Linked DNA regions of Homo sapiens. The protein of the gene in region 3 interacts with the protein of the main gene of each other region in a biochemical or structural test. Each region holds a gene or a part of one and is shown on either strand. Other genes may lie near its edges. The genes, in order: NOSIP, PAX3 and IPO13.

Region 1 (7,105 bases), on a different chromosome or scaffold from region 3:
AAATGTATACACCCTTGTGACCACGACCCTATGGAGATACAGAACCTTCCTATCACGCTAAATACCCCCTCACGCCCCTTCCCGATCAATGTGCCCCCTGAGGCAGCCAGGGCTGCTTGCAGAAGGGCGACCTTGATCAAACACCCCAACTTGACCCAGGGTCCCCTCCACATGCCAGGCTCCTCCTCCGACTTCCCCCTGACCCCCAAGCTTCTCAGTGAACGTCCAACACCTGTTGCCTCCCCTCACCTGCCATCCGCTCCCCAGCCCCCACAACTGCCACTCATGAAGGTCACGGTGACCTTTTCATGGACACATTCCCCACTCTATTCTTAGTTGTCAACTCCCTTGACCCTCTGCAGTATTTGGCTCTGGGCACCTCGGCTTTCCCAGAGATGAGCTTGCTTGCTGTTTTGTGGCCAAGAACTGAGGTTTCTACATAGATGGGGACATTTTCCCTCCAAAAATAGGAGGAACACCTATAGAGGGAGCATTTAAACTTTTTTTAATTTAATTTGTTTTTTTTGAGATGGAGTCTTGCTCTGTTGCCGAAGCTGGAGTGCAGTGGTGTGATCTCGGCTCACTGCAACCTCCACCTCCTGGGTTCAAGCAATTCTCCTGCCTCAGACTCCCAAGTAGCTGAGATAACAGGCGCCCACGCCCAGCTAATTTTTTTTTTTTTTTTTTTGTATTTTTTAGTAGAGACAGGGTTTCACCATGTTGGCCAGGCTAGTTCTGAACTCCTGATCTCAAGTGATCCGCCCACCTCAGCCTCCCAAAGTGCAAGGATTACGGGCATGAACCACTGCACCCGGCAAACTCTTTGATTTTTAAAACTCAGTGATTTTTAAGATCCTGAGACCAGAAAGCGTGAGCGCCTCCAACCAAGGGTGGAAGAATAGCCAGTTTCAGGATTTACAAACTCTGAAAGCTGAGCTCTCCTGCCCCACACTATATTGTCTCTTTGGTAGGTCCAATTTCAAACTACAAAGCAGACTGCTGCCATCTGCTGTCACCAGCATTTCAGAGAGGAAACAGGCAAAGAGCAGGAGCGACCGATGTCAGCATAATCCCTACCTCACAGCACAGGAAACAGGCTCACAGCATGTCCCAGCTGGGAAATGGCAGAGCTGGGACTCAGACCCAGGCAGCCAGGCTCTGGAGCCATTCCTTTTAACTAGGTGACAACTGTCAGTTTTCCTAGGAAAGTCACAATCTCAGAAAAAAGGCCAATCAGGCTGGCCACGGTGGCTTAAACCTGTAATGCCAGCACTCTGGGAGGCTGAGACGGGTGGATCACAAGGTCAAGATGTTGAGACCATCCAGGCCAACATGGTGAAACCCCATCTCTACTAAAAATACAAAAATTAGCTGGGTGTGTTGGTGCGCGCCTGTGGTCCCAGCTGCTCGGGAGGCTGAGGCAGAAGAATCGCTTGAACCCAGGAGGTGGAGGTTGCAGTGAGCCCAGATCGCACCACTGCACTTCAGCCTGGCGACAGAGTGAGACTCTGTCTCAAAAAAAAAAAAAAAAAAAAGCCAATCCATTCCTTTATTTGTAGCCTTTGAAATCCAGAATGTATTTTACTCTTTCAGCACATCTCAGTAATTTCAGTAATTCAGATGCTAAATTTTCTTTTTTTTTTCTTTTTTTTTTGAGATGGAGTTTCGCTTTTATCACCTAGGGTGGAGTGCAGTGGTGTGATCTCGGCTCACTGCAACCTTCACCTCCCCGATTCAAGTGATTCTCCTGCCTCAGCCTTCCAGGTAGCTGGGATTACAGGCACCCGCCACCATGCCTGGCTAATTTTTTGTATTTTTAGTAGAGATGGGGTTTCGCCATGTTGGGCAGGCTGGTCTCGAACTCCTGACCTCAGGTGATCCACCCGCCTCAGCCTCCCAAAGTGCTAGGATTACAAGCATGAGTCACTGCACCCAGCCTTTTTTTTTTTTTTTTTTTTTTGAGACAGAGTCTCGCTCTGTTGCCCAGTCTGGAGTGCAAAATAGTGCAATCTTGGCTCACTGCAACCTCCACCTCCAGGGCTCAAGCCATTCTCCTGCCTCAGCCTCCCAAGTAACTGGAATTCCAGGCGTGTGCCACCATGCCCAGCTCATTTTTGTATTTTTATATTTGTATTTTTAGCACAGATGGGGTTTCACCACATTGGCCTGGCCATCAGATGCTAAATTTTCATTGGAGATACTTTAAAATATATATATATATATGGCTGGGAGCAGTGGCTCACGCCTGTAATCCCAGCACTTTGGGAGCCCAAGGCGGGCAGATCACCTGAGGTCAGGAGTTCAAGACCAGCCTGGCCAATGTGGCGAAACCCTGTCTCTACTAAAAATGCAAAAATTGGCTGGGTGTGGTGGCAGGTGCCTGTAGTCCCAGCTACTCGGGAGGCTGAGGCAGGAGAATCGCTTGAACCTGGGGGCAGAGGTTGCAGTGAGCCAAGATCGGGCCACTGCACTCCAGCCTGGCCAACAGATCAAGACTGTGTCTCAAAAAAAAAAAAAAAAAAAAAGCCCGGCTCTGAAGCAGACCCTGGCTCTAAGCATTTTACTGAATATCATAACACCTCAAACGGTCGAATATCACAACACTCCACTGAATATCACAGCACCTCAAATAGTTGCTATAAATGAAGAGAGGCACAGAGGCGGTGCCCTAGGTTATGCAGCTAGTGAGTCCTACAGCTGTGTTTGATCCAAGCACCTGTGGCTTTGACCATCCACTGTGCCAGCTGGCTGCAGGCGGCCTCAGGCACTGTGCTGAACTCTGGGAGTGGATCAGACAGCTAGTGTGTGTCTTGTCCTCCCCTGAAATCCTGTCTCCTTTCTCCTCCAGAGCACTGCCAAGGTTTGCCTCCTCCAAGAAGCCTGCCTCTCCGGGATCAGTTAGGTTCTCCTTGCACTTGACCGTGCCCTGAGCTACCTCCGTTACAGCCCGTCCCTCGGTATTTCGGCTCCAGAGTAGGGGCCCTGGTTGGTGGGGCCTGGGTTGAACTTCAGCCTGGGTCCCAGCATTGCCTGGCACCTGGGAGGTCTCAGAGATGTCATGATAGAATCAATGAACCACCTCCAATCCTAGGGCCAGGGGAGGTGGGTTAGCAATGAACTAACCATGCAGCCATGACATCATGCCATTAATACACTAATAATTCATTAGTAACATGTGAATCACAGAAGCACTGGAAGAACAGAAGTAATCATCACATCCTTCAACCCCTTAAGAATCAGACCTTGTGGGAAGCACTTTCCACATGTGAACACATTCGGTCCTCATGACAACCTCCCCACGTTCTGCCCATTTATTTTATTTTATGTATGTATGTATGTATGTATGTATTTATTTTGGAGACAGTCTCACTGTCACCAGGACTGAAGTATTTTTTTTTTTTTTTTTTTGGAGACGGAGTCTCACTCTGTCACCCGGACTGGAGTGCAGTGGCACGATCTTGACTCACTGCAACCTCCACCTCCCAGGTTCAAGTGATTCTCCTGCCTCAGCCTCCCAAGTAGCTGGGATTACAAGCACACACCACCATGCCTAGATACTTTTTTTGTATTTTTAGTAGAGACGGGGTTTCACCATGTTGGCCAGGCTGGGTCTTGAACTCCTGACCTCAGGTGATCTACTACCTCGGCCTCCCAAAGTGCTGGGATTACAGGCATGAGCTACCGCGCCCAGTCTTGCTCATTTAATAGGTAGGAAAATTGAAGCTTGGAGAAATTGGCCTCTTCCTCAGTCTATTCCTTGACAAACCAGCCTCAGGGGGGCTTTTCAGAATGGAAGTTTGATTAAGTCACTCTCTTCAACTGCTTCTTGGACATGACTCAAGACAAAAACCAAATTATTCAGACTAAGTGTAAGAGAAATGGGAGAATAGGAAAACTGCCATTTTGCAACCTCTGGTGAAATAGCTGACTCAGGCAATGATTGTTGATGGATGGCATTAAAGGAGAGGCTGATGGGGCCTGGATAGTCACAGGATGCTAATTCTTGCTACTGGAAAATACACAGTTGTAGCTTTACAATGCGGTTTTCGATGGCTGCCACCTGTCTCAGTCTGCTCCAGCTGCCATAACAAAACACCACTCTGGGTGGCTTAAACAACAGACCTATTTTCTCCAGTTCCTGAGGCTGGAAGTCTAAGTTCAGGCTACCAGCATTGTGGGGTTCTGGTGACACCCTCTTCCTGGTTTGCAGATGGCTATCTTCAGTGGCAGAGAGAAAGCTCTCTGGTGTCTCCTTCTGTTTTTTGGGAGGAGTCTCACTTTGTCACCTAGGTTGGAGTGCAGCGGCGGATCTCGCCTCCCAGGCCCAAGTGAATCTCCTGCTTCAGCCTCCTAAGTAGCTGGGATTACAGGCGTCCACCACCATGCCTGGCTAATTTTTTTTTTTTTTTTTTGAGACGGAGTTTCGCTCTGTCACCCAGGCTGGAGTGCAGTGGCGTGATCTCGGCTCACTGCAAGCTCTGCCTCCAGGGTTCATGCCATTCTCCTGCCTCAGCCTCCCGAGTAGCTGGGACTACAGGCGCCCGCCACCATGCCCGGCTAATTTTTTTGTATTTTTAGTAGAGAGGGGGTTTCACCACGTTAGCCAGGATGGTCTCTATCTCCTGACTTCGTGATCTGCCCACCTCGGCCTCCCAAAGTGCTGGGATTACAGGCGTGAGCCACTGCGCCCGGCCTCATTTTTGTATTTTTAGTAGAGACAGAGTTTCACCATGTTGGCCAGGCTGGTCTTGAACTCCTGATCTCATGTGATCCACCTGCCTTGGCCTCCCACAGTGCTGGGATTATAGGCATGAGCCACCATGCGCAGCCTCCTCCTATTATAAGGACACCAATCCATCAGATTAGGGCCCCACTCTTTCACCTTAATTATCTCCACAAAGGCCCTACCTCCAAATATAATCACCTTGGGGAATTAGGGCTTCAATATACGAATCTGGGGGGGACATTCAGTCTATAATGCTGCCTGAGCCTGAATGAATTTCACTACCCCTGAAAATGGGGCACCCAGGCAGTATGCAACATGAAGCGACCAGCTCTGAAGTAATCACCTGACAGCTGAATGGAAATTTAATCAAGTCTTTACATTCAATTTCCTGATTCTAGGAAGTCAGAGGATATAGCAGGGAATAACAAAAAAGGGCCAGAGAGTAAATGTTTTGAACTTTGCAGGCCAAACAGCCCCTGTAAGTACTCCACTCAGCCCCTGTAGCATAAAAGCAGCCACAGACACACAAACGGGCATGGCTGTGTTCCAATAAAACTTTACTTTTAGACTCTGACACGGAATCACATATAATTGTCATAGGTCACCAAATTCATTCTTTTGGTTTTTTCCAGTTATGTAAAAACGTTAAAAACCAGGCCAGGCGCAGTGGCTCACGCCTGTAATCCCAGCACTTTGGGAGGCCAAGGCGGGCAGATCGTGAGGTCAGGAGATTGAGACCATCCTGACTAACACGGTGAAACCCCGTCTCTACTAATAATACAAAAACAAAATTAGCCGGGCGTGGTGGCGGGCGCCTGTAGTCCCAGCTACTCCGGAAGCTGAGGCAGGAGAATGGCATGAACCCGGGAGGTGGAGCTTGCAGTGAGCGGAGATCACGCCACTGCACTCCAGCCTGAGCGACAGAGCGAGACTCCATCTTATAAAAAAAAAATGTTAAAAACCATTTTTAGTTTGCAGGCTGAACAAAAACAGGTAGCAGTTACAAAAGTCAGATATCTCCTGGCTGTTGTGGCTCATACCTGGATAGGGTGCTTTGGGAGGCAAAGGCAGGAGGATCACTTGAACTCACGAGTTCAAGACCAGCCTGAGCAACATGCCAAAACCCTGTCTCTACCAAAAAAAAGCAGCAGCAGCATGGTTTTTGAGACCAGACTTGAACTTGCTATGGGCAACATAGCAAGACTCCATCTCCACAAAACAAAATTTAAAAAATTAGCCGGGCATAGTGGCATGCGCCTGTGGTCCCAGCTACTTGGGAGGCTGAGGCAGGAGGATCACTTGATCCCAGGAGGTTGAGGCTGCAGTGAGTTATGATCGTGCCACTGCACCACTGCACTCCAGACTGAGTGACAGAGTGAGACCTTGTCTCTGGGGAAAAAAAAAAAAATGCCAGGTGAGGTGGCTCACACCTGTAATCCCAGCACTTTGGGAGGCCGAGGTGGGCGGATCACCTGAGGTTGGGAATTCGAGACCAGCCTGACCAACATGGAGAAACCCCATCTCTACTAAAAATACAAAATTAGCTGGGCGTGGTGGTGCATACCTGTAATCCCAGCTACTCGGGAGGCTGAAATGGGACAATCACTTGAACCTGGGAGGCGAAGGTCGTGATGAGCCAAGATCGCACCATTGCACTCCAGCCTAGGCAACAAGAGTGAAACTCTGTCTCAAAAAAAAAAAAAAAAAAAAAAAAATCAGGATATCTGATAAGGGAATTGCAGTGAGAATATATTAAAAACTTACAACTCAATAATGAAAGGACACCTAACACAATTTGAAAATGGGTAAAGGATTGGAATAGACAGTTCTTCAAAGATCTACAAATGGCCAATAAGCATGTTAAAAGACACCAGTTCACACCCCCTAGAATGACTATAATCAAAAAGATAAATAATAAGTGCTGGTGTGGATATGGAGAAACTGGAACCCTTATACATTGGTGGTAGAAATGTAAAATGGTACAGCCATTCTGGAAAAGTCACAGTTTCTCAAAAGGTTAAATAGTCACCTTTTGACCCAGCAATTCCACTGCCAATAGAAATAAAAACATACATCCATGCAGGCGGGGCGCGGTGGCTCATGCCTGTAATCCCAGCACTTTGGGAGGCCAAAGCGGGCGGATCATGAGGTCAAGAAATCGAGACCATCCTGGCCAACATGGCGAAACCCCATCTCTACTAAAAATACAAAAATTAGCTAGGCGTGGTAGCGCATGCCTGTAGCCCCAGCTAGTCGGGAGGCTGAGGCAGGAGAGTCGCTCAAACCTGGGAGCCGAGATCACGCCACTGCACTCCAGCCTGGGTGACAGAGCAAGACTCTGTCTCAAAAAAAGAAAAAAAAAGAAAAGAAGTATATCTT
Region 2 (7,105 bases), on a different chromosome or scaffold from region 3:
GGAAGATGACCACTGAGGGGCCGCGCTCCCGGCCTTTTAATGTGTAACAATGGTATCAACAAACAGCTACTTAATCAATATTTGGCCAGAGCTGCTGAAAACTTCCTTTTCAGATTTTAATTCCTACTTGTAAAACAACCCCAGAGCAGCCAGTGAGATAAGACATTAAACTGACTGCTTAATTGCCTTTTAGTGTCTTGTTAGTTATATATGTACATTCTAAATGGTTCTTTAATCTTTATTTACCCTCATAGATAAGTTACCTGTCATACAGAATCCAATCGAACGTAAAACATTTTCTGTTCCAGCCCAAGCCAAACTCTCATTTCTCACCGTTTGTTTGTTGTTACTGTTGCAGCTTTTCATTTTCATTGGCCATCTACTTATGTACAACTTAAACATTTAGTCTCATAGGAAGAATTTTTTGTTGTTGTTCTCAAAATATATGCATTCATGGATGCTGAAGCCATTCGGATTTAGCGGCCACACTCCTATTCACGTGATCGATTTCTGCATATTCCACTCGCCTGAACCGCCGCGCGCTGACTGGTTCCGCCTCACCGCCCGGGTGGGTTTTATTGCTCAGCCCTGGGGACTTTTAAATGACCCTTCAGTAATTATTACTCAGTAGAAGCCCCTACGTCCTGGTTCCGGTGCTATCAACAATCAAATCAAACCCCAAAATAAACATACGATTTCAAGCATTAATTAGAAAATCTGCATGTTTTCAATAAAGCTCTAGAAGGTAAGCACACAGCAGTCAACCAAACCAAACAAGCGAAAAAGAAAAAGCTAGGAGCTGAACTCTGGTGTTTCCTTTCAAATCGTTCCAGCAGGAAAATTGTTACCGCGACATTAATAAATAGAACACGGCGTGGTGTTCTAATAGAATTCAAGTTCTGATACTTCCAATATTTTTTAAATGGATGATATTTCTTTGCTGAGTTTTGCAAGGACTTCAGAAAATATGAAGTTTTCTCTATAGAATCGAAACGACATTGAAGTCAAATTCGTGATCCTAACAAATGGACTTGGAAAGTGGGCTGGTCTGTCCACTTGAATAAAGGATCCGATGCCATAAACCTATGATCTTATACCCAATGATTTTAATCTATGGGAAAGTTCGTCCCCCGCCTTCCCCTCCTCCCAACCTTGGACCAAAATGGCCCTTCCTGCTCACTAACCGGGAAAGAAACGGCCCTTCGTTTTCCTTGATTTCAGCAGTCCCTTAATGATAAGAGTGCTCTTTTCATGATTTCACTGGAAATAAAATACTCCAAATACCTTTAATGCTTTTCTGCGTTTTAAACTGATTAATCTTCTCCTACCTCCCCCCCAAAAAGCTGAAGTCGTCCTCGTTAACTTTACAAAAGCTGACAAGCTTACAAATAAAATGGAAACTTGAGCAAAGCTTTCGTCACTTTTACTTTCTCCAATTTTTTAAGAAAGCACTCTTTTTTGTAAACGTCAAATAAGAGGGAACAGATAGGAAAGGAATATAAGCCCCCAACAGACCTATGCTTGAGATCTCTTAGTGGGATCTTTTAAATTGTTGCAAACCTCCCACGCTCACTTGTGATTTTAAAAGGGAGGAAAGTCTTATGAGAGTGTATCGCCAGTCCCCAATCAAAACATCAATTTGGCAATCTGGCCTCTCTCCCCCTGCGCTCCGGAGCTGCCACTTCAAAGCTGCTACAACAAGTCAGTAATTGTAACTTTGCATCTAAATATTTAAGCGAGAGTCTTGCAGTCGCGTGTCCATTTACAGTCCTCAACTGTCCTCTAATTCCATTACTGCACAAAGCAAAAATGTTTCCCAAAACTCACAAACAGGAAAAGCGTCACCCTGCTGGAGGGGGAGAAGGAGGGGTGGAGGAGGAGGAGGAGATGATGAAGGGGCAGTTTCTATTGATTAGTCACCGCTTTTGTGTTAAGGGCTTTCTTTAAAATAAGAAAAAAATGGGGGGAGGTTGCAGAAATTTCACTAATGTGAGCCTCAGGCAAGGGAGGAAAAAAAAAAAGAGGAGAAGAAGGGGGGAGGCGGGCTGTGTCTAGATGAAAGTGAGAAGGACATAAAGGAGGCAATTGAGTCGGCTGCAGCCCGGCGAGCTAAGCTTCGAGCCGGCCAGAGAGTAGGGGAGGGGGCGGAGCGGCGCGGCGCTTTGGCGCAGAGCACAGGAGTGGGGGCCCAGCCCATTGTGGCGGCGCCCGCGGGCCCGCTAGGCCGAGCCGGGGGAGGAACAGAGGCGCCCATTGAGCGGCCGCTGCGCAGGGCGGTGCCCACAGCCCCGGATGCCTCGGCCAGGACTTGGCTCCCCCGGCTGCCTCTGCTCCAGTCTCAGCGCGGGCCAGGGGCTAGGGGGATTGGGGATAGCGGGCGGGGTTCGTGTTAGTGAACCGCCCAGCCCTCTCCTTTCTCCTGGGCTATGGAGCTGGAGGGATGTATCCAGCAAGGGTGCATCATGCTTAGCGCGCGCCCGTTAGGGAGCGCGGGCCTGAGCGCACCAGCACCGCTAGCGGCTCAGCTCTTGAATTGAGCGAGGGAAAAGGGAAAGTTGGGAAAGTTAAGAGGACCATCTGGGAGAAAGCCACTGGAGAGAAGAATGAGGTGATTCTGACCTCATTCAAAGTGGCTCAACCCTTTTGTCCTAGTGTCTGCCAAGCAGACCTCAGGCCAAAGATTCCCCTGAAAAGCCAGGCTCAGCAGCACCCACCAGACCCACTAACTGGAAAAGGGCAAGAATACACCACACTGGTCAGGGGACCCCAAAGTTCCTCCTCCCTCAGCTTTCTTCTCCCCCTCTGCCAGGGCGCTAAGAACGCTTTATCAACATTCATTCTATTTTACAAGCGGGCAGCCTGGGATTTTTGATGCCCGAACAACAGAAAGGAGTTTTTGAAGTTTCTAGACTTCAAACTGCACCTCACTCTGTCCTTTCTCTGGGCCCCTCTTGTCCTCCGAGGCTCATCTAAAAAGGAGCTAGAGATGCTGAAGAGACAGACACTGCATCTTCCTTGACAACCCCAAATTAAATCAGGCTTCAGCCTCCAAGGTGTGTGTGTGTGTGTGTGTGTGTGTGTGTGTGTGTGTGTGTGTGTGTGTGTTTCCAACAGCACAGCCCCCACTGGGGAGAATACTCTGATTTTAAAAATGTAGCAATTGCCCTTGAATAGCAGCCGGCCCAGCTAGACAGCCCAAAAGACTAGAAACATTTTGTAGGTGAAATGGCCACTTTTTCCACGCTGAAGAGTCCATAAAACTTCCCGGCGCAGCAGCTATTGGGGCTCATTGAATAATTCATCCCTCATTGCAAGCCCATAATGTCTATTCTCAGCCTTTTGTGGTGCTGTTTTCTCTTCTTTTCTCCTTGAATTATAAAAAGGTTGCCTTCCTTTGTTCACATCAAGCTGCTCCGAGCTGGAGCTTTGTCTGGGCTGAGCTAAAGTGTGAGTTTCAATGGACTCTCCAGGCTTTGTCTCCCAAGTTCATCTCCAAGTGTAGATTGTGTAGAGAAGGACTTCTTTGTAAAAGCTGGAAAAGTTGTACAAATGTTTGACCAGCTCATTTGGGACGTTTTGTCTCCTGGGCCTCAGTCGCCTGTACTGCGAGAGAGCAGCCAGTCTGCCAGCGCCGGAGCCTCCAGCAACAAGTAGCAAAGCCGTGAGTCCCCAGCCTCTGTGACTGCTCTGGGCTCTTCTCCCCACTGCCCACAGGAGCACATTTGGTTTGGGGTTGTCTGACTCCCTGCCTTCCTCCCTTCTCAGCACCTCTATTCTGCAGCTAGGCCTGGGATAAAAGCCAAGGTGTCTTCTCAGAGACCAAGGCAGAAAAATGCACCTCTCCAAAAAGAGGATTTAGGCTGAGTCCATAGGAGGCCTCTGTCATAAAGCAAAGGAAGCATCTCCCTGCCCAACCTGCTGTGGTTTGACATGTCTTTGATTTCTTGTGTGCATCAGAGTATCTACACTTGTTTTTCCCTCAAATCAGCCATTTGGATCTGTAACTTCCAAATCTAAATGTTCCTTCCAGGTTGTGTGCAGATTTTGCATTGCTTTGTAAAGCAGCTGCTCAGGAGAGCCACTGGCTGCCACAGAGTTGGGCAATGAAGATAAAAGAAGTCCCACTTGGATGCCACTCTGGTAAGGGCTCGGACCCAGCTAGTCACAGTCGGCAACGGCTGTGAGCCCACCTGGAAAGCCGCCTGTCCCTCTGGCAACTCCAAAACTAACTTTGCCCAATGAACTCCAAGTCCCAGGTGAGGAAACTTCAGGCATGAGTGGGACCCCTGGCCACTCTTGACCATTTGTGCATTTGAAGAGGGGCAACCACCCCCAAGGCCAAAGCCACTGAGACACAATCCTCCCCTCCCCCCTGCCGTCTCCTGCTGCAATGATCCTTTCCTGGTTCAGCATTTCTTTTCCTTTCTTTCTTTCTTTTTGCGTTTGTACCCTTAAAGTTTGAGGATGGCTTGCGGCAGGTGAAGGGGAAGCAAGCTGCACTTCTGTCTCCCATGGGGGAGATTTTTTTTCTTAGTGCCGACAGTGCACAGCCGAAAAGGAATGGGGATCTGTACCCCTAGAAGACAGAGGGTGCCAGCACTCTAAGAACCCAGATCCCTTCAATTTGTAACCCAGAGCTTGGGTTCCTTTCAATTCCCAGGCACACACAGGTTAAACCCCCTCACATTTGAAAATCAACTTCAAACAAATCAAACCAGTCAACACACAGACATATTTATAAGGCAGCCAATGTGGGGGCAATTTTGGAGGGCCGTTGCCCAAAAGAGTACTCTCTCTCTCTCTCCTTTAATGCGAGGAAACTCCGGAGACCAGGGCCTTTCCTGAGGGCATAAAAGCTACTTCAACTTCTGAAGATTCAAGTACCCTCTATCCCCGGCCCTACAATTGCTCAGAGATGCCCAGTCTCATACATTTAATGGCAACAGAGTGAGAGCTTCCCCTGCCCCCTACAACAGAGCACAATTCACAGTTCTAGAATCCCAGGGGCTGAAAGTGGTTAAGAAAGAAAGATTTACAAAACAGAAAAACTAAGCAGAATAGAAATGTTTGTTTTGATTCCTAGTGTCCCTCTGGTCTTTCAGTTCCATGTCGTTACTCAGGCGCAGAGACACCGCGCATGAAGGGACCTTGATCCGAGCTGGGCTTGGCTGCCGTCAGATCACCAATGTCAGCTAGCCGATGCCCTCCAAGTCACCCAGCAAGTGCGCCGCCCAAGGCGCCACCGCTTACCTCGCTCGCTCAGGATGCCGTCGATGCTGTGTTTGGCCTTCTTCTCGCTTTCCTCTGCCTCCTTCCTCTCCAAGTCGGCCTCCTCCTCTTCACCTTTCCCGAATTTACTTCTCAGGATGCGGCTGATGGAACTCACTGGGGGCGGGAGGAGGAAGGAAGCAAGGGAGCGCACATGGTTGAGACAAGCAGGGCTGTGCGGGAAGGACCCCCCACCCCCAAACACCAGCCAGGGCCCTAGAGCCGCTGCCCTGCACTGCTCGCGGGTGTCTCCTCCTGCATCTCTGGACATCCTCATCCTTCTCCAGCCCTCTCATCCTGCCACTCAAACCCCCCTCCCTATTATCTGTATCTCGGTACTGAAAGACGGAGGCTGGGAAAACCGTGCCTCCAAGTTAGGGCCGGATGCCATCTTTGTCCCTCGATTCTGGGCAGGAAGCATTTCCCTTCCTGGACTCCGAAGACCGGGCTCTAGGTCTGCAATCTAAGAGAATTCTCCCACCAGCCCACCGGGTACCCTCCTTCCTCCCCACCTGAATGCATGGATCCTGCGGTTCGCCTTAAGGGAGGAAGAACCAAAGCCGACTTGTCCGCGCCCCCCCCCACCCCCCCGTAAATCAAGTTTCTTTTTTTTCCTTTCTTCCCTTTTTTTTTTTTTTTTAAGGCTATAAAGGGTTTAAATTTCAACTGCAGAATCGTTTCCTATTGTAAAAATCAAAAGAAAATGCACTCTCTCCCACTTATTTTTTCCAGATTCCAGTCTGGTAAACAAATCCATGCTCTGAAATATGTTTCTCACAGAGGGAAAAAGGGAGTTTCCTTTTAATTAAAAACAAACCCTCCCGTGCGCCCTCTCGCTGGCCCCGTGCTTGCCCCTCTTCTCCCTCCGCCTCCCCCAGGCTGCCGTGGCGGGGGGCTCCGGACCGTCCCTGAGACTCTCGGAGGAAATCGGGGCCGTTGTGGAAGCCTCCACGGCTTTGCGCACACGGCAAAGTCCCTCCCGGCGCGGGCCCCATCTCCCTTCGGTTGGGGTTACCAAAACATTTGTTTCTCTTTAAAAGGGAACATCAATATTAATAAACGCTCTGCCTCCGCCTCACGTTTCCTGCCCTGCCTCCTCGACAGAAATCTTCTTTGGGGCGTCCTCAGCGGTGGTCTCGCCACCCTCCGTCCCCAGGACAAGCAGCTCACCCCTCCCTCCATAAAGTGCCAAGAACACCGGGTTGGCAAATATTGCAGGGCCTCGGGAGAGGCCACCTCCCAATAGCTGAGATCGATAATTGGGGTGATTACGTCTGGGTCGACGTGCCGGGGTAATAGCGACTGACTGTCGCGCCTCGGGGAGAGGTTAATGGGCCTAGTACCTGACGGCACGGTGTTTCGATCACAGACCGCGTCCTTGAGTAATTTGTCTCGGATTTCCCAGCTGAACATGCCCGGGTTCTCTCTTTTGTATTCCTCAATTTTCTTCTCCACGTCAGGCGTTGTCACCTGCTTTAAGAGAACAGGCGGGCAGGCGTTGGTACCCGGTACCCTGGGCCAGGTGGCGGCGGCCCCACCGCCTCTGGGCCTGTCGGGATGCTCCTCGCTGAATCCTCTGGGACGGTCCCCCTTTGTGAGCAAAAAGACCTGAACTCTCTGAGGCACTTTAGAAAGGGGCAGACCAGAACACATCCCATCCCATCCCGGAGCAGCCTGGGAAGCCTCTAACTTCCCCAGACAAGCCCCAGACAACCGGGATAAATTCAGAAGAATTATAACATCTTGATGGGGGTAGGGTGGGGTTATACTTTCTCATCCCTGGAAATAAGGCAACTGCTTACACAGAACCAACATGAAAACGAAACTAAAAAAGCGA
Region 3 (7,105 bases):
GAAGAAACGGCCACCACACTTACTGTGGCCTCTGGCAGGTTGGGGTAGCCCTACACTGCTCCTAGCACATACCTCCCATCAGCCAGTCATTGAAGAGGAAAGCTGGGATGGCGGTGGGGGGGTGGGGGAGTCAGTCCTTGGTATCTCCTTTTGAGGTTTATCTGAGGGCCCTAGAAAGGCCAGGGCATCAGAGCCTGAGTAAGTGCCACCTCACTTCAATGGCCTTAGGGCTCTTGGTCTGGCAAAGGAAAATAATCTATTCAGTCCACTTAAACCACAGGACTCTTGCTTAGGTAGGGCAGTGCCCAGCATGCTCTGGAGATGGCCTGGCAAGTCACTGGCAGGGCCCAGAGGAGGAAACAGTATCATAAGGCCAAAAACAAGAGCCCCACCCCAGCAAACCTCCTCCACATGGACATGGACTCTGCAGAGAGCCAAGCTCAGGGCTGAGGACTAGTTCCCATCATCTGGACATGCCAAGAAACAGGGAAACAAGAAACATGTCATCCTATGGTCCAGTGGGAAGGCAGAGCCCGAGGAAGGAATGGCTAAGATTGGGATGGCATAACAGGTATGGGAGCCATCCTGTCCAGCGAGACAACCAACAAGCCCAACGTATATGATGTTGGACACTGCTGCCTCCAGTTCTGATCATTCCTGAGGCAAGAATATGGCATGCACCTGGAGCTCCTACCCAGGCTTCTCCACTCTCAGGAGGATGTGGTACAAAACCATCTGCCTAAGACACCACTAAGTAGCTGTGTGATCTTGCGCAAGCCACAAATGCTCAGTTTCCCCATCTGTAAAGCAGATAATCTCTGCCCTGCTTCCTTCTCTAGGCTATGAAGAGTCACCAATAAAGTCTGTCCCTTTGGTATCTGAACCCTGAGTTATTTAAGTCCTAGAAAGTGAGGCCCAGTGTGCACCATGCAGGTTTGATATTCAGCAGCCACCCTGCTAGAGGTGGGCCAGAAAATGAGAAGGAAAGGTTCCAAGGGCAGGGAGCCCTCCCCCTCCTTTATTTAACAGTGTCTGTGGCCTGCTGTATTCTGGCCTCATTCTGGGCACTGGGGATGCAGAGAGAAGAAACTCAACCCTACCCTTGAGGGGCTTAAGTCTAGTAAGAGAGACAGACATGAAAGCTGATTATTGTGTGTGATCAGTGCTGTGTCAGCAGTGTGTATGGGATGCAGTTTCAGTACAGTTAGAAGCACCCAATTCTGCCTCAGAGAGAAATTACTCTGAGAAGTGATGCAGTCTTCCTCCTTTCTAAGGCATGAAGGAGTGAGAGTTCACCCAGTAAAGGGCATAGGACATTCCAGTCAGAGGAGCAAGGCACAGGGATCAAATGGGACACGGTAAGGAAGAGGCAGTGTGGCTGAAATGTTGGAGTCATGAGGACATTGGCAGGAGAGGACATTAGAGGCATGCCAGAGCCTTGTCATGTGGGTGGGAATGGAACAATAAGCTGAGGGCAATGGGAACAATGAAAGGGTTTTAAGCCCGGGATGACAAATGCTCAGATTTGTGTTTTTATGAAGATTATAGCTGCAGTGTGCAGAACAGATTGGAGAGAAGGGGAGATGCCAAGAAAACCCACTAGAAGGTTGCTGATAATCCAGGTGAGACCCTAAACTGAGGCAGTGGCCACGGAGGTGGGTAGAAGTGGACCAACCGAGAGAGAATCAGGAGTCAGGATCAATGGGGCTTGTCCCAGATTGGGTACAGGGAGTTGGGAGAGGTGGAGTTGAGGATGACCACACCAGGTTTCTGGTTCAGTTTTCTCCCCAGTTTGGACCTACTCCATGGCCCACAGAAACAGAGGCCAGGATCATGAGACCAGGCACTGAGGATATGAGCTGCGAGTACTCTGGGCACCAACCGAGACCCCTGGTGAGCCTCAAACCTGTGACCATGAATCCAGGCAAGGCTCATGAGGCTAGCTGAGCAGTGCTGTTTTTTTGTTTTTGTTTCTCCAAACTGGAAGCCTGGATTAGACAACACGAGAAGCCTGAATGAAGCCCCTGCTGCCAACTCTCTCAGGCAAAGGGCCACAGTGAGTAGAGGGCTAGGACCACAGCCAAAGGTACTTGACTTCTGGCCTAGAAAGTACTAAGCCTTGATGCAGGGAAAGGAACCAACAGTCTCTGAGTACTTCACTGTGCAAAAGCCCCTGAGCCAAGGGCCCAGAAGATGTGACTTTAATACCTGTAAACAATCATTTCAAGTATATGTTATCTCCGTTTCACAGATATGGAAATGAAGGCCCAGCAAAGGTAAGTGACTTGCCCAAGGACACACAACTAGTTGGTGGTGATGAACTTAGAATCTAGGTCTAGCTGACTTCAAAAGCCCGTGCTCTTTCCACTTTTCATTATATCCCAAAGTAAAGGAGCCAGCCTAGTGCCCCAAGCCCCTCAGAGCCTCTGCCCACCTCCCACCCCCACTTCCTTCTTCCATATCCAGACTGGCCCTGAGCCCAGCAGGCCAGCAGAAGACATCATTCACCCTCTTATCCACTTCAACCTAAAGTTTCAACTATTTATAAGGTGTTGTGCTTGATCTCACAGGTTTCCCATCAAGTCCCACGTGTGACTCAGGGGACAGAGAAGAACAGAGTGGGCAGCTTTGGCTCCCCATTTGGGGAAGCAGAGGCAGTGGCAGTGGCAGCAGCAGCAGAGACCCCGGTCAGGACCTACCTTGCTGGAAGAGAGTGAGTGTGACGGAGGTGACGAGCAGGAAGAGGGCCTCAATTGGGGGAAAGTGGGCAGGCTCATGAGCAAAGATGTGGACCAGCTACGAGAAAGCAGGGAATGCTGGTCAGCTGAGACCCAGTCTCACCAGGACATGGCAATATCCCTGGAATGCAAGTGGGGACCCCAGCCACGGCAGCCATCTGACCCACCCCCACCCAGGGTCAGGATCTCTGCCCCAACCAGAAGGCCCACCTGTCGAGTGAGGTCAAGAGCAGAGGCCTGGGGGATGGTGCTGTACATCCGACCCAGCATCTCACACAGCTGTGGCACCATGGGGGCAAAGTCATCCAGCAGCGTCTTAACAGACTTCTCAAAGATAGCGCACACCGCCTTGGGAAGAAAGCAAAGGGGCCCTGGTCAGCAGGTCATGACTGGCTGGAACAGCGCTGAAGCCCTGCACAGAGGGGGCCTACGATTGGGCCCTTACCTATAAGCCTTGCCTGGCCCTGCAAACCAAGGAAGGTAAGCAAGTCTGACCCTCACCCTGAAAGGCAGGGGGCAAAGGCCCTTCACTGAGGGGCACAGGATGTAACTGTGGAACTTAACTCCTGCGACTTACATCTCTAACATTTCCTCTCAGGGAGCAGCAACAGCAACAAAAACCTGAATTGAAAAGGGACCAAAGGCAGGTCTTTGGTGCTAAAACAGATGCCTGACTGTCACTCGACCCTAATATTAGAGTCCTTACGTTAAGCACTTCTCATGATATTGGGGAGTTCTAAATGTCTTCCCAAAAGATTCCTTATCTCTATGGGGCAGGATTCACCTCCCTTGTTTTCTCCAAACCATTGTAAGCTGAAGTGTGGCAGTAACATCTTACCCTGCTACACCTCTGAGCAGTCACTATGGGAGCGGAGGGCAAGGGTCAGGGCTCACCTCCACAACCTGGGCATCATTCAACCATTTGCTCAGCACCTTCTGGATAAGCTGGAAGACCTGCTGCAGCACCACCACCACCTGAAGGCACAGGAAGAAGTGAGGCGCTTCTGCTATCCATCACTGTGACCCACTTGAGGAGGACTTGGTGGCAGGGAGGAGGGGAGCAGTTCAGACCTATTACCCCAGAACACACATTGAGGACCCAGGGCATGGGACCCCTGGGGGAAGAAGTGGTTTGCTGAACTCTCTCATGAATGAAAAAGGAGTATTTCCTGAATTCTAGGGATCATCTCAAAGGAAGCCTCAAACTGCAAAGCAGAGATATCACAAGTGCTTCATAAGGTTACAAAAACTTTGTAAACTTAAAAAAAAATCTCTCCCTATCTCTGCTCTGTAAAACCAAGGCTATGGGCTAGCCTCTGAAGAAGTGGAGATGCTATCTCCTCCAAATAGGCTTGAGGTAGGGAGCCCCAAGGAATGCACAGATGCAGGCTTAAGCTGCTCTCCCAGCTTATGGAGGAGCAGAGAGCAGACTGAGGTCCTGGGAGGTGAGGAAAGGCAGGATGATGACTACCATGTAAAGAAGCAGCTCTGTGGGATGACAGTGGCCCAGGGGTGGTCTAAAGCCAAGAGGCTAACTGAAACTGGGTTGGGGAGTTAAGCAGAGAGGCCAGGATGCCTATGGCTTCCTTTTCTCCTGGAGAAATCTGGGAGGGAGTTCTGGGAACAACGACTAAAGCAGTCCCTTATATTTGTAAAGAACTTTACAATATGCAAACTACCTTCACTTAAGACCACATCTACTATCCAGCACAGTTCTATGAATTGAGTAAGCCAGACATTTCAATGTTCATAGTTTTTAATGGGAAGCTGAGGCTTGCCCCAGATCAAGCAGCTTGTAAGTGGTCACCCCAAAACCTATGCCCAAGCTTACCACAGGACTTATCACACTGCTTTGTGACAATTTGAGCAACCTGAATTTCCTCTACACTGGGAGCAACTTGAAGGCCAGAACTATTACATGCGGAGGAGGTAATGAGCATCCTTAGTGCCCACAGGGGACAGTAAATGTTGAAGTAGAAGGCCCTACAGAGCTAGGGGTTGAACAGGGGCCCATAAAATCACTTAAGGGTTGAAGGATATAACGTCAATGTCCCTCATGGGGCTGAGGAATCTCAATGACATCACCCTAATTGGGCTGGGGACAAGGACAACATCACACACAGAGCTGAGTGAGATAATGACATTGCTGCCTACAGAGTGAGGCAATTATAGGTCATTCATGGAGTCAGAGGACCAAATATATCACGCCCACGGGGCAGGGAGAACAATGACAACATTACCCACAGAATTGAAGAGTGACAATGACATTCCCACAGGTGGGGGTTGGGGGGATGGCAAAGACAAATGTCTTTGCCGTGGGCAAATGTCACCCACGGGGTTGGGTCCCTGTGGCACTGGCAGCTTCCGAAGCTCAGGGCCTTCATGATCATCCTCATGATGACTGATGTCCAGTGTGGTGAAGAGGTTGGAGAGAAGCCCCAAGATGTGAACAATGGCCAGCTTGTTGGAGGGATTGGGCTGCAGGGAGAAGCAAACCAAGCTCCAGATCTCCCAGCCCCAGTTTGGTCCCCAGATCACTGAGCCTCAGCTCTGAGGGCCAGCTCCAACCTCACCCCTCATCAGCCACAGCATCTCAGTACCGCTCCCTGGCCCCCAGAGCTCACTCACTATCTCCTCTGCCAGCTTCTCCAGTTGCTGGATATAGGGTGAGATAAGCGAGTGCAGGTTCTTAAGGATCTCCTCCACTTGAAGAGCTGACAGCAGGAAGCCCAGCGCCTGCATCAGCCACATGCACTGGCTTGTCTGTGGGGCAGAACATGGATGGTCAGTCCTGGCCACATCTAGTTGTGGGGTAGGAAGGAAAATGAGCCTCTTGGGAGAAGAAAAACAGAGAATAAGGGATAAGAGGAAGGGGAAGGCCAAAAAACAGGATTTCAGGGATAAGTGATTCCCACAAGACCTCCAAGGAGACCCCTAGAAACTTTTGAGCCGCACCTTGTGGATCTGTTTCATCAGCACATCCTGAGGGGAGAAAGAAGGAATGTAGTATCAGCACAGTGCAGAGTGTGCTCTGAGGCCCAGCACCATCCAGGGCCCCTGCATACCTGGGACACAGCCACAATGTTGGCAGCATAGGGAGGCAGGTCATACTTGCACTCTCGGCAGATCTTCTTGAGGGTGGACACAGAAGAGACAGACAGCTCAGGATTGCCTAGGGCATGCAGTACCAAGGGCAGAACACTGTTGATCATGACGGGGTGGTCAGCCAGCCATTCAGACAGAGCTCCTGGAGGAAGGAGGGAGACAGGAGGATCTTTGAGGCAGGCCAGGCTGGCTTTGTACCATGTCTCTGAGGCAAGCAGAGTTCCTGGCAGGGTCAAGTTGCAGCCCCAGCACAGAGTACTGCCCCATTCAGAGGACATATGCATGTGCATGCTCAAACATGAGCCTTACAGCTGAGAAGCAGGAAGGGGTTACTCAACAGAGGCCCAGTACTGCTGTTTCACTGACGGTAAACTAGCCTCACTGAATTGCAGCTCAGTGTGCCATCAGATGGACCCCCTAGACCTGCCAGGACAGTCAGTTTGTTACAACACTGATTGTGTGTAGGCATGTGGCTCTCCCATTCTGGATAGGATCCAGCATGCTGGCTGTGGCCAGGGTTGGGTGCTGTGGCTCTGGGAATATGGTCATGGGTGTGTGCCAGGTCTCACCAATGGTGAACATGACAGTGTCTGCCAGCTGCACGTTGCTGATGCTGATCCGTGGGATGAGGCCAATGAGCCCAGGCACCACATCAGAATAGTTGACGTCAATGGTCTCTGCGATGGATTGGAAGCCGTAGAGGAGGGCCTCTGTGTGCTGGGGAAAGAGGGTGCCACTGGCTTGGATGAGGAGGAGGGTGTGACAGGTCTGGGAAGGCTGAGGGAATCAGGCTTGGGAGGTACCTGCCAGGAGTAGGGCTCCTCTGAGCTGGTGAGCAAACGACCCAGCTTGTCATAGAGGTTGCTGAGCAGCTCGGCCCCCAACATCTCATAGACATACATGAGCGTGTCTGAGATGTCCACCCTGAGAAGCAGATGAAGGCCTTTTATACTGCCTGGATCCTGACCCTGGATCCTGCCCCCAAGCCCAGGAGCCTACCCCAGTACCCCCACAACTCTGCAACAATACCTAGAAAACAGAAAGGAGCACCAAAATTCAGAAAGCCTGGACTTGGGCCCCTTCCCTCATTGCCTTCATTATTTCTGGACTCCATTTTAGAGGAGTTGGCCTGCTACCATCACCTGTAAATTCGGAACTGCTCCTTCTCGTCTGAGGACCAGAATCCATATTCCTCATCAGAAGGGAACTGGGCCTTGTGCAGAAGCACATCCACCAGCTGGAAGTAGACTGGCCGGTACACC

The links.
Region 1: the proteins of IPO13 (region 3) and NOSIP form a complex in vitro, tested with the Homo sapiens proteins (one study listed by BioGRID).
Region 2: the proteins of IPO13 (region 3) and PAX3 form a complex in vitro, tested with the Homo sapiens proteins (one study listed by BioGRID).

The regions. Positions count from the first base shown.
Region 1 is NC_000019.10:49,570,469-49,577,573, forward strand, and holds part of NOSIP (nitric oxide synthase-interacting protein), read right to left. Parts: intron 6,410-7,105; exon of another isoform or gene 6,291-6,409; intron 4,517-6,290; exon of another isoform or gene 4,123-4,516; intron 1-4,122. UniProt on the Homo sapiens protein: E3 ubiquitin-protein ligase that is essential for proper development of the forebrain, the eye, and the face. Catalyzes monoubiquitination of serine/threonine-protein phosphatase 2A (PP2A) catalytic subunit PPP2CA/PPP2CB.
Region 2 is NC_000002.12:222,288,917-222,296,021, forward strand, and holds part of PAX3 (paired box protein Pax-3), read right to left. Parts: intron 6,742-7,105; coding exon 6,612-6,741; intron 5,386-6,611; coding exon 5,251-5,385; coding exon of another isoform or gene 5,189-5,250; exon of another isoform or gene 4,842-5,188; coding exon of another isoform or gene 4,807-4,841; exon of another isoform or gene 4,719-4,806; intron 1-4,718. UniProt on the Homo sapiens protein: Transcription factor that may regulate cell proliferation, migration and apoptosis. Involved in neural development and myogenesis. Transcriptional activator of MITF, acting synergistically with SOX10.
Region 3 is NC_000001.11:43,956,857-43,963,961, reverse strand, and holds part of IPO13 (importin-13), read right to left. Parts: coding exon 6,986-7,105; intron 6,768-6,985; coding exon 6,647-6,767; intron 6,561-6,646; coding exon 6,413-6,560; intron 5,986-6,412; coding exon 5,804-5,985; intron 5,721-5,803; coding exon 5,694-5,720; intron 5,502-5,693; coding exon 5,367-5,501; intron 5,217-5,366; coding exon 5,073-5,216; intron 3,714-5,072; coding exon 3,633-3,713; intron 3,087-3,632; coding exon 2,949-3,086; intron 2,797-2,948; coding exon 2,700-2,796; intron 1-2,699. UniProt on the Homo sapiens protein: Functions in nuclear protein import as nuclear transport receptor. Serves as receptor for nuclear localization signals (NLS) in cargo substrates.